Homo sapiens: one gene and its partners. The protein of the gene in region 1 interacts with the protein of each later gene in a biochemical or structural test. Each region holds a gene or a part of one and is shown in the gene's direction. Other genes may lie near its edges. The genes, in order: KNG1, ECE1 and MEP1A.

Region 1 (3,826 bases):
CAGCAAAAATAGTAAACTGTCAAAATGATTAATATGAGAATGATTAGATCATGTCTGGCATATCCTCAGAATAGAGTGTTAAGCAGCAACTTAAAAGCATCTTTGTGCGGAGCTCTTGATATGGGGAATGTCTTGTGTTATAATATTCAGTGAAAAAAAGGAGGCATAAAATTGAATATACATGATGTTATCAGTTGTGTTATTTTAAAGTACAGAAAATAATGTGGGAAAAAAAAGTGGCTCACGCCTGTAATCCCAGCACTTTGGGAGGCCGAAGTGGGTGGATTGCTTGAGGTCAGGAGTTTGAGACCAGCCTGGGCAACATGGTGAAACCCCATCTATAATATTAGGTTGGTGCAAAAGTAGTTGTGGTTTTTGCCAAAGTAATGGCAAAATCACAATTACTTTTGCACCAACCTAATAAAAATTCCAAAATTAGCAGGGTGTAGTGGTGCACACCTTCAATCCCAGCTACTCAGGAGGCTAAGGCACAAGAATGGCTTGGACCCGGGAGGCGGAGGTTGCAGTGAGCCGAGATTGTGCCACTGCACTTCAGCCTGGGCGACAGAGTCAGACTCCACCTGGAAACAAACAAAAAAACGAATGCCTCATAGTCATAGTGGTGATTTTTAGGTGATGGAATAACACTACTTTAATCTTTCTAATTTTCTGTATTACTTTTGTAACTGAAAAAAAGTAAACAAACTAGATTAAAGTAAATCAAAACTGATACTTTGATCTCTCTGCTACTTGAGCACTTGTTTCTATCCCAGACACAACCACCCTCTCTCTCTGATTTCATTGCCATATGACCACGTTAGGTTTACTTGAAAGGGACGCCAATCTATGCTATTCATGCTTTTTTCAGCTTTAACTTCTCACTTTATATTTCTGCTTTCTTGTGAAATTATTTTATTCTTTTTTCGTTGTTGTTTTTTAAGAGAGACGCGGGCCAGACATGGTAGCTCATGCCTGTGATCCCAGTACTTTGGGAGGCAGAGACAGGAGGATCACTTGAGCCCAGGAGCGAGACCAGCTGGAGCAACATAGCAAGACCCTGTCTCTACAAAAAAAGAATTAAAGGCCAGGCGTGGTGGCTCATGCCTGTAATCCCAGCACTTTGGGAGGCCGAGGCAGGTGGATCACCTGAGGTCAGGAGTTCGAGACCAGCCTGACCAACATGGTGAAAAACCATCTCTACTAAAAATACAAAAATCAGCTGGGTGTGGTGGTGGGTGCCTATAATCCCAGCTACTCGGGAGGCTGAGGCAGGAGAATCACTTAAACTCGGGAGGCGGAGGTTGCAGTGAGCAAAGATCATGCCATTGCACTCCAGCCTGGGTGACAAGAGTGAAACTCCATCTCAAAAAATAATAAAAAAAAAAAAGAATTAAAAAATTAGCTGGGTATGGTGGTATGTGCTTGTAGTCCCAACTACTTTGGGAAGCTGAAGTAGGAGGATTGCTTGAGACTGGGAGGTCGAGACTGCAGTGAGCTGTGATCGTGCCACTGCACTCTAGCCTAGGTGATAGAACAAGACCCTTTGGGCAACAGAGCAAACAAAAAGAGAGAGAGATGGGGGTCTCACTATGATGCCCAGGCTGGACTCGAACTCCTGGGAGCAAGCAATGTGCCCATCTCAACCTCCCAAGTAGCTGGGATTACAGGCGCACACCAATGCACCCAGCTCCCTTATTCTTTATTCTGAATGTTGTAGGAATAGGCCACCATGTATTGTATGTCAGAGGTTTGCCATCAAAAACAGAACCACTCATTCTCAAGCATGAATATCTAGTCTTCTTAGTAGTTACAGTTTTCTCTGTGGATTAATGAATCAACATTCTAGTATGCATATGTGTCTACATTAAGGATGTCAGGGGGACACAAAGAGGTAACCCATCAGATAGCTGCCAAGTCAATCTGAATATTGCAAGAATTTCAAACTTACTTTAGAGAGATAAATCTTTACTAATTTTTGCATTTAAAGAGAGCAATTTGGTTGCTTGGACATAGTCACCCAAGGCAGCCTTGATGGAAGCAGCCAATTTACTGGAAATCAATTAAACATATGATGAATTTGCTAAAAGCTAGTCTCCAAAATGACCAATTTGCCAAATTGCTAAATATTTATAGTTTTAATCTTGCCTTGGGTTTGCACATTTAGTCCTGTTTGGATGCATGTTGATTCCACGTTGGGTTCATATTTCAGATATGAAACACTTCCTGAATCTTCCATTTTCACACATTAGTGATTACAGTTTCATATAAGTTTTATTTTGCCCTACCACCACTGCTGCTGTCCCCAAGGCTGTTGATGCTCCTGTCTGCCTCTGCTGAGATGAATAAACTTCCAAGATCTGTGTGTGCACATGCAGAAATTTTTCCTTTGACAAAGTCCTAGGAATGTCAAATAATATGTAGATATATAAGACTTGATGCAAATTGCCAGAATCACCAAATATTTGCAATGATGCCAATTTACATTCACATCACCTGGGTATAAGACACCAGTTGAGGCCAGGCGTGGTAGCTCATGCCTGTAATCCCAGCACTTTGGGGGGCCGAGGCGGGCGGATCACCTGAGGTCAGGAGTTTGGGACCAGCCCAGCCAACATGGTGAAACCTCATCTCTACAAAAAACACAAAAATTAGCCAGGTGTGGTGACACTTGCCCGTAATCTCAGCTACTTGGGGGCGCTGAGGCAGGAGAATCACTTGAATTTAGGAGGCGGAGGTTGCAGTGTGTGTCACTGCACTCCAGCCTGGGTGACAGAGTGAGACTCCGTCTCAAAAAATAAAAGAAAAAAGACACCAGTTGAGGATCTTAATTTGAATTCTCTTCCTACCAGCAGTGACTGAGGCTGCTTGATTCCTATGCCTGGCCAATGCCACGTATCATCAATTTTTGTTTTCATCTTTGCCTGCATGGAAGGCTAACAATGATGTCTCATTGCTTTTTTAATGTGCATGTTTTTGTTTATTAATGAAGTTAAACTTTTTTTTAGGCTTAATGACCGTTTTAACTTCTCTGAAATACCTGCTCATGGCTTTTGTCCATTTTTAGTGTTGGGCTTTATATTCATACAGACATTGATTCTATATCATAGTTTTCCCAGCTTGCCTTTCTACTTTGCTTATTGTGATTTTTCAGAAGCAGTTTTCATTTTTCTCTAGTCAAGTTTTAGTATTTTCCCCTTCCTTCAGATTTCTTTCCTCTGCTTTTCACCTAAGAAAGGCCTTCCTCATCCTGGGTTTTGGTGAATATTTATTTATTTGTTTAGTTGTTTTTTGTTTGTTTGTTTTTGTTTTGTTTTGTTTCCCGAAACAGAGTCTCACTCTGTCACCCAGGCTTGAGTGTAGTGGCGTGATCTTGGCTCACTGTAACCTCTGCCACCCAGGTTCAAGCGATTCTCCTGCCTCAGCCTCCCAAGTAGCCGGGATTAGAGATGCTTGCAACCATGTCCGGCTAATTTTTAGTATTTTTAATAGAGACAGGGATTCATTATATGTTAGCCAGGACGGTCTCGAACCCCTGACCTCAGGTGATCTGCCCGCCTCAGGCCCCCAAAGTGCTGGAATTACAGGCAGGAGCCACTATTCCCGGCCAACACATTTAAATACTATGATTTAATACTAAATAATTTGGTTGAGAAATTGGGCCACAAAATATTTAATGGAAGATAGTGTTGAGTAGTGATTAAAACTGTTGCTAGAGATTAAAATAATTTTTTTTTCTTTTTGAGACAGAGTCTCACTCTGTCACCCAGGCTGGAGTGCAGTGGCATGACCTCAGCTCACTGCAACCTCCGCCTCCTGGGTTCAGGTA
Region 2 (3,600 bases), on another chromosome or scaffold:
GTTGAGCACCTACTCTGTGCCGGGTGATGGAGAGTCTCTGTTGGACAGGCCAGACAAGGTCCCAGCCCCAGTAAAGCTGTGGATTCTGGAGAGGGACAGAGACAGTGATGATAAAGACATGGAAACAAAACAGTCTGCAACAAGTACTGTAAAGGAAAACAAACAGGATGCTGTAACAGAGAATTTGGGGGACTGCTTAGGGTTCCTGGGACATTTGAGGAGCTGGTAGGCTGAGATCTGAAGTTGGAGCTGACCATGGGAAGAGTAGAGAGGAGGAAAAAATGTTCCAGATAGAGACAACAGCAGCTACAAAGGTCTTGGGGGAAGAAGAAACTTGTAGAAACTGAGGAGTTGTGTGAGGAGGTTGGTGGGGGAGGGGGCGCTGGCAGCACAAGATGAGGGCCCAGAGTGGGCAGGGGCCATGGGGCCTGGTGAAGGGTTTGGATTTCATTCCAGGACAGTGGAGGGTTTTTAAGCAAGGGAGTGGTAATATCAGAATTTTTTTTTATTTTATTTATTTACTCAGACAAGATCTTGTTGTGTCGTCCACGCTGGAGTGCAGTGGTGCAATCACAGCTCACTGTAGCCGCCACCTCCTGGCTTCAAGCGATTCTCCCACCTAAGCCTCCCAAGTAGCTGGGACTACAGGCGCATACCACCACGTCCTGCTAATTAAAAATATATAATATATAAATATATATATATATATTTTCTTTTTGTAGAGATGGGGTCCGTGTTGCCCAGGCTGGCCTAGAATTAGACTCAAGTGATCTCCTGCCTCAGCCTCCCAAAGTGCTGGGATTACAGGTGTGAACCACTGAACCCAGCCAGATTTCTGTGGTTTGTTTGTTTGAGATGGAGTCTCACTCTGTCACCCAGGCTAGAGTACAGTGGCACAATCTCAGCTCACTGCAACCTCGACCTCCTGGGTTCAAGCGATTCTTCTGCCTCAGCCTCCTGAGTAGCTAGGATTACAGATGCATGCCACCAGGCCCAGCTGATTTTTTGTATTTTTAGTAGAGATGGGGTTTCATCATGTTGGCCAGGCTGGTCTTGAACTCCTGACCTCAAGTGATCTACCCAACTTGGCCTCCCAAAGTGTTGGGATTACAGGCGCGAGCGAGCCATGGTGCCTGGCCTCAGCCAGATTTCATTTTAAAGGCTCATCCTGGCTGCTGAGGGGGCTGTCAGAGGGCAGGAGTGGAAGCCAGGAGACCATCTGGAGCCATTGCCCTCACTGTCCCTGTGACGTCAGGCCCCTCACCCCTCTAAACCTGTTTATTCACACATATGTGTGACTGTGAGAATCAAATTTGGAATGAGCAGAAATGCACTTTGCAAAGCTGAAAAGTACGCATAAATGCAGGGATTCCCGCCTTGCTAGAAGCGGAGAGTCCTTTGGAAATCTGCTGGGTTAGACCTCTCTGGGGTTCTTGGTTGGGACAGTGCTGGGCCTGAGTCCCTAACTGAACACCTCATATCCGAGAGAGCCCCCTTTCCCTGCCTAGGGTTATAGGAGAGGGCTCAGGGGCTGGGGAGGGGGGCACCTGGCTGAGGCTCCGAGTCTTGAGGGGGAAGATGGGAAAGAAGGGTCCCCTTCCTGGCTTCTGACTCCCCCTGGAGCAATGGTTCTCTTGTGTTGCAGGGAGGGCGACACCTTTGAGCACGGGGGTGACCACCGGACCACCCTGCAGCCATCCAAATGCACACACACAGCTCCTTTCATCCCGTGTCAGGGAGTTCTCTGAAATTTTCTGAAACTCATTCACGAACTCTGGCTTAAAGGCCTCTGAGCTAGAAAGGGGAACTGAAAGGGGACACCTACCTTTTTACCCCACCTTTTTTGTCTGGTCTTTCTAGCATTAACCCCCTAGACACACCTAAGGGCTGATGCCGGGGGGAACCTGTCTTGATTGCTCTGGGCCACATCGAGGGCACCTTCCTGATACTTTTGTTATCTGCCACTGGGGACCCGGTTGTTGAAGGGGGACTTAAGATTTTCTCGAAGGAGGGGTCACTGTGAGGGCCTTTCCTGCCTGCTAGGGGCTTCAGTTTGGGGGCCCCCACTCCCGACCTCCGGGGAAGGGAGGGGTCCCCATCTCCCCCGGGCCTCTCGGGTCTTGGGGTCTCCCCGGGAGGCCGGAGGTTGGGAACCGGGCGCCGGCGAACCGATCAGGCCCCGCCCGCGAAGGTGGTGCAACGCCTGGCCCGGCCCATCCCATCCCGGCCACCCGGGCAGCGGGACCAGGCGTCTGGGGCACAGCATGCGGGGCGTGTGGCCGCCCCCGGTGTCCGCCCTGCTGTCGGCGCTGGGGGTGAGGCGGGCGCGGCCTGGAGGGCGGGGGCGGGAGGCGGGCGGGACCCCTCCCCGCGCGGGCCGCTCCGTGGGCCGGTCTCGGTCTCGGGTGTCCAGGCCGGGGCGGGGCGCGGCGGCGGCGGCGCCAGGGTCGGGGCCGCTTCCCCATTCGGGCGCGAGAGCCATGGAGGCGCTGAGGGAGTCCGTGCTGCATTTGGCCTTGCAGATGTCGACGTACAAGCGGGCCACGCTGGACGAGGAGGACCTGGTGGACTCGCTCTCCGAGGGCGACGCATACCCCAACGGCCTGCAGGTAGGCGCCCTCCGCTCCCTCCCGAGGTCCAGGCGCCCCGGGCCCGGGCATGCGCGCTGCCGCTGCCGCGCCCCCCGCCCCTACCTACCCCGCCTCTTCCCCTCCCTTCCCCTCCCTCGTCCCGGCATCCGGGAGGGGCCGCGCCTCCCCGCAGCTGGAGCTCCGCGCTGAGAAGCCTTCCGGAGCCCACCAGTCTCCCCTCACCTGCCCCCGCCATCCCTAGAGCCTCCCGGCCACCTGCTTCTGGGGCCACAGCCCAGGTGGCAGAGTTGAAAGCACCCCCGAGACCCGAACTGGTCCAGTTCCCTTTCCACAGAAGGCACAGTTTGTGCATGTCCCGGGACTTGCCCAGGCCCTTTACCGGCAGAGTCTACGGCTGTTTCTGTTTTAGCGTGGAAAGCCCTGCATCCCTGGAACCCACTCCCCCAGTCCGGGGCAAACTGGGAAAGTTGGTCACCTTATCCGGGAGGCAGTACCACCCTCTTCCTCTTGCCCTCCCAATACCTGAGTTTCCTGGGGCCAGAAACCTGTTCTCTGCCCCCTCTCCCTGCCCCTTTTCCAGCCTACTAAGGAAGTCCAATTCCTCCCCTCCCCAGGGTCTCCGCCCGTGGGCATCCCATCTGCCCACTCCTGGGGAGGGCCCCACCCCCGTCCCTGCCTTGTAACAGGACATTGAGCAAGGCTGCTTTCTGCCCTCCCGTCCCTGGGGGGCTGCACTGGGACAGTTGTGGCCAAGACCTCAGTGCTGGAGGGGTTTGGAGCCAGCCAGGTGCGTGGGAAGGTGCTGGAAACGCTGCGGACACCCTAGGAGACCCAGTGATCTGGCTCTTGAGAAGCCAGTGTAGAAAGAGGAGCTGGGGCACCCCAATTCTCGGAGGACTTCTGCCAGGTAGACCAAGGGAAGTATTTGGGAGAATCTTGGGGCCACTTGGTGAACTGGCACACAACTCTTCCCAAAGGCGAGCTTAGGATGAATGGACGCTTAGTTGCC
Region 3 (3,826 bases), on another chromosome or scaffold:
ATTTGAATAGCTTTTAAGTTTTGCAAAATGTATATTTTGACCAAAACACTTACACACAAAATGTCTCCATATGCATATCTGTATATAATATATGTTACATACATAATGCTTATATACAAACTTACATGAAAAATGTTGGCATACAACTATGTGTATGTACACACACATGCACACACACACGTTTTTACTGAGGCCAGGACTTCCTTATAGAAGACAATTCTGAACTAACAGGGATTAAATTTGTCTCAAACAATCGTAGTAGCATTATTGCCTGACTGATTTAGGGCAGCCCTGTGGAAGCATGTAAACGAAACCATCTTAATAATTTCATAGATGAATTTCTGCCTATGTGGTATAGCCTCTTGGGTCTCCTTCCCAGTGCCAGATTCCCCCATCTCAACCTCATTTTGACATCCTATATTAAGAAAAAACAAAGCAGGTACTAATCAGCAAGAACAGAATCCTATTCTCTTGACAGAATTCCCATGATCTATAACCTGCTGGATAAATAGTTCAAATCCTATATCTCTGTTCCTATTCCTAGACTTTCTGGCACCTATTACCCTTCAAGTCCATGTGTCTTCCACTAGGCTGCCATGCTCTCCGCAGGAGAGGGCAGCTGCCTAGATTTGTATGTTACAGAGGTGGTCGTGTGCCTTCTCTACCTCTCTCCTGTGTTCCCATGTAACCTACCTCTCTCCTGTGTTCCCATGTAACCTAACCACACAGGCCATAATCAGCTCCACCCTAAGAAACAGAACATTGTTAGACCTGTCCCTTGAAGTTGTACTTAGAGAGAATGGCCTGAAAACACAAGGGAGATTAAAGGTCTTTTCCTTTTCAGGGAAAGTATAGTTCTATAAGTAGATATCTGGTTAAAAGACACAGAAGAAGGAAAAAAGACACTCATCTGTAGGAACTCAGTTTAGCCAACATGACTTCCACTTGGAAGCATTTTTCCTCTCCTCTTCAAGCCCAACTCTAGGGAATACCCTGTGCAAAAATATCAGTGTAGGCACATCTCTTTGCGGAATTGAGTTGCTTTGCTTTCGCAGTTTCCTCTCTCCAGTACCCCCAAGCTCCTGTCTGGCTTCTTATACTGTTCAACCCAGGATCCTATGTTCTAGAACGGCCTTCTCACCATCTTTCCTCAGCTCTTAATTCGAAAGTCCCACTTCTAGTTCATGCTCAGAGAAAAAGCAAGTAGACCTAATCTTTATTAGAACGTGCATTTCCAGACAATAGTACTCTATTTGGCTTACTTTGCTCCCCTACATGGTGGACTTTCAGATAATATAAGGAAGAGAAAAAAGTCTAGATGTTGGAGAGGGAGTCAGTTTTAGGTAGGGAAGATCCAGTCAGTCCTACAGGTTATTATCTGCTCTTCAGCATTCCTTATAGCTCTCTGGCAACAAGTGACAGGTCGGACCATATGGAGTTACTATTTTTTTTACTTTTGGCTTAGAAAATGGCTATTTTATATGATTCAGCCTAACACTTGGGTTTTCTTTGCTAACCTTAGGGGTTACAGTTGAACCAGCCAACTCAGGAGGAAATCCAGAACCTGGATTCTTATAGTGGAAAACAAATTCACGGTTAAGATTTGAATGTGAATTTTAAAATAAATCATAGTATTTTAAAAAACAATTTTTCCTTATTAGGTATGTAACTTTGGAAAAGTTACTTAACCAGTTTATAACAGTACCTATTTTATAGGGCTGTTGTGAGGATTTAATGAGATAATTTATGGAAAGCACATGGCACTGTGCCAAACTCATAATAAGTACTCATTAAGTGTTGGTCACAGTTCTCACCAGCCTTGTTCTCTGTCCTCAGGAGATGATGACCACAATTGGAAAATTGCCCATGTGGTGCTCAAAGAGGAACAGAAGTTTCGCTACCTTTTCCAGGGCACAAAAGGCGACCCTCAGAACTCAACTGGGGGAATTTACCTAGATGACATCACTCTGACAGAAACCCCCTGCCCCACAGGGGTCTGGACAGTCCGGAATTTCTCCCAAGTCCTTGAGAACACCAGCAAAGGGGACAAGCTTCAGAGCCCTCGATTCTACAATTCGGAGGGATATGGTTTTGGGGTAACTTTATACCCAAATAGCAGAGAAAGCTCTGGTTACTTGAGACTTGCTTTTCATGTGTGCAGTGGGGAGAACGATGCTATCCTGGAGTGGCCGGTAGAAAACAGACAGGTGATAATTACCATCCTTGACCAGGAGCCTGATGTCCGGAACAGGATGTCCTCAAGCATGGTGTTCACTACCTCGAAGTCGCACACATCTCCAGGTGGGTGGTGTCAGCGCAAATAAGAACTGCCCCTTGAACCAGAGAGGCCCACAGATGTGATTCTGTGGTGCAAGAAAGAGTAACGTTCTCCTCACATTGTCTGTTTGGGAATACCAATAACATAGTCTTGTTGGAGTTTCAAGTCAAGATTTTCAATGCCATCACATCCTCCTTCCCTTTCCTAAATTCACTCATCAAACATCTATTGAGGGCTTACCATGTGCCAAAGTCGGTGCTAGGTACTTAGAATACAAGTGAATCAGGTGATCCCTGCCTCACTGAGCTCGTTGTGATTGAGGAAATAGATACTGCTAATCATTTATCAAATACTTGGAACTTGCTGGGCTCTGTGCAGAGCTAATGTACTTACTCCTAAAATAGTACTCAATGTTACTATGTTCATGAAGTAAACTTACATCAGTAAAGAAATGGGCAAACTATTTTTTTTTTTTTTTTGAGATGGAGTCTCCCTCTGTCGCCCAGGCTGCAATGTAATGGCGCATTCTCGGCTCACTGCAACCTCCACCTCCCAGGTTCAAACAATTCTTCTGTCTCAGACTCCCGAGTAGAGATGGGGTTTCACCGTGTTGCCCAGGCTGGTCTTGAACTCCTGAGCTCAGGCAATCCACCCGCTTTGGCCTCCCAAAGTGCTAGGATTACAGGCGTGAGCCACCACGCCTGGCACTAATTTTTTTTTTTTTCAAAAGAGAAGACTTAAGCCTTAGAAGAAAGAAGCCGTAGCTGTCCCTCTCTTTTCATTAAGAAAGTCGCTCAGTAGCAGACAACTGATCACTCAGAGCTGTGATTCTCTGCCTCTCCCATCTTTCAATTCTGAATTGCAATTCTCCTGGAAATAGTAAATAGCCTAATTTTTTTCCAACACTTTTTTTATTTTTATATTTATTTATTTATTTATTTATTTATTTATTTATTTATTTATTTATTTCTGATTCACAAAGCCCTGTATCCTCATTAAAGACAAACTGGAAAGTGAAGTCTAAAGAGGTAATGTGATTTTATGTTACCTACAACTTTGCAGCGATAAATGACACTGTCATCTGGGACAGGCCGTCCAGGGTGGGAACCTATCATACGGACTGTAATTGTTTTAGAAGCATCGACTTGGGCTGGAGTGGTTTCATTTCCCACCAAATGCTGAAAAGGAGGAGTTTCCTGAAAAATGATGACCTCATCATATTTGTGGACTTTGAAGGTACTTTTGTTGGTCTTCCTGAGTAAATAATCCTATGCTCTTGGCACTCTACTGATTTTATCCTGATTTTTAAAGCACACACGGAGGGTGGGGATGAGGTTAAAACAATGTGTTGTAGGAGAATCACATTTTATTCAATTGGTCAAGGACTCACATCTTTATTTTAATTGTCCTTGAAAGAAACTGAAATTTTAGTGTCATCTTTTTGATAATTTTATCAGAGGTAACCGTTCACTGATTTCAATTTAGTTTCCATCAGCCTATCCATGCTAATTTTATGCTTCATTTTGCAAATTCAATAAATAAAAATGT

The links.
Region 2: of the proteins of KNG1 (region 1) and ECE1, one has a biochemical effect on the other in vitro, tested with the Homo sapiens proteins (one study listed by BioGRID).
Region 3: of the proteins of KNG1 (region 1) and MEP1A, one has a biochemical effect on the other in vitro, tested with the Homo sapiens proteins (one study listed by BioGRID).

The regions. Positions count from the first base shown.
Region 1 is NC_000003.12:186,734,254-186,738,079, forward strand, and holds part of KNG1 (kininogen-1 isoform 1 precursor), read left to right. Parts: intron 1-3,826. UniProt on the Homo sapiens protein: Kininogens are inhibitors of thiol proteases.
Region 2 is NC_000001.11:21,289,079-21,292,678, reverse strand, and holds the start of ECE1 (endothelin-converting enzyme 1), read left to right. Parts: upstream 1-2,215; 5' UTR 2,216-2,264; coding exon 2,265-2,315; intron 2,316-2,463; exon of another isoform or gene 2,464-2,480; coding exon of another isoform or gene 2,481-2,522; coding exon 2,523-2,609; intron 2,610-3,600. UniProt on the Homo sapiens protein: Converts big endothelin-1 to endothelin-1.
Region 3 is NC_000006.12:46,831,238-46,835,063, forward strand, and holds part of MEP1A (meprin A subunit alpha precursor), read left to right. Parts: intron 1-1,836; coding exon 1,837-2,301; intron 2,302-3,340; coding exon 3,341-3,514; intron 3,515-3,826.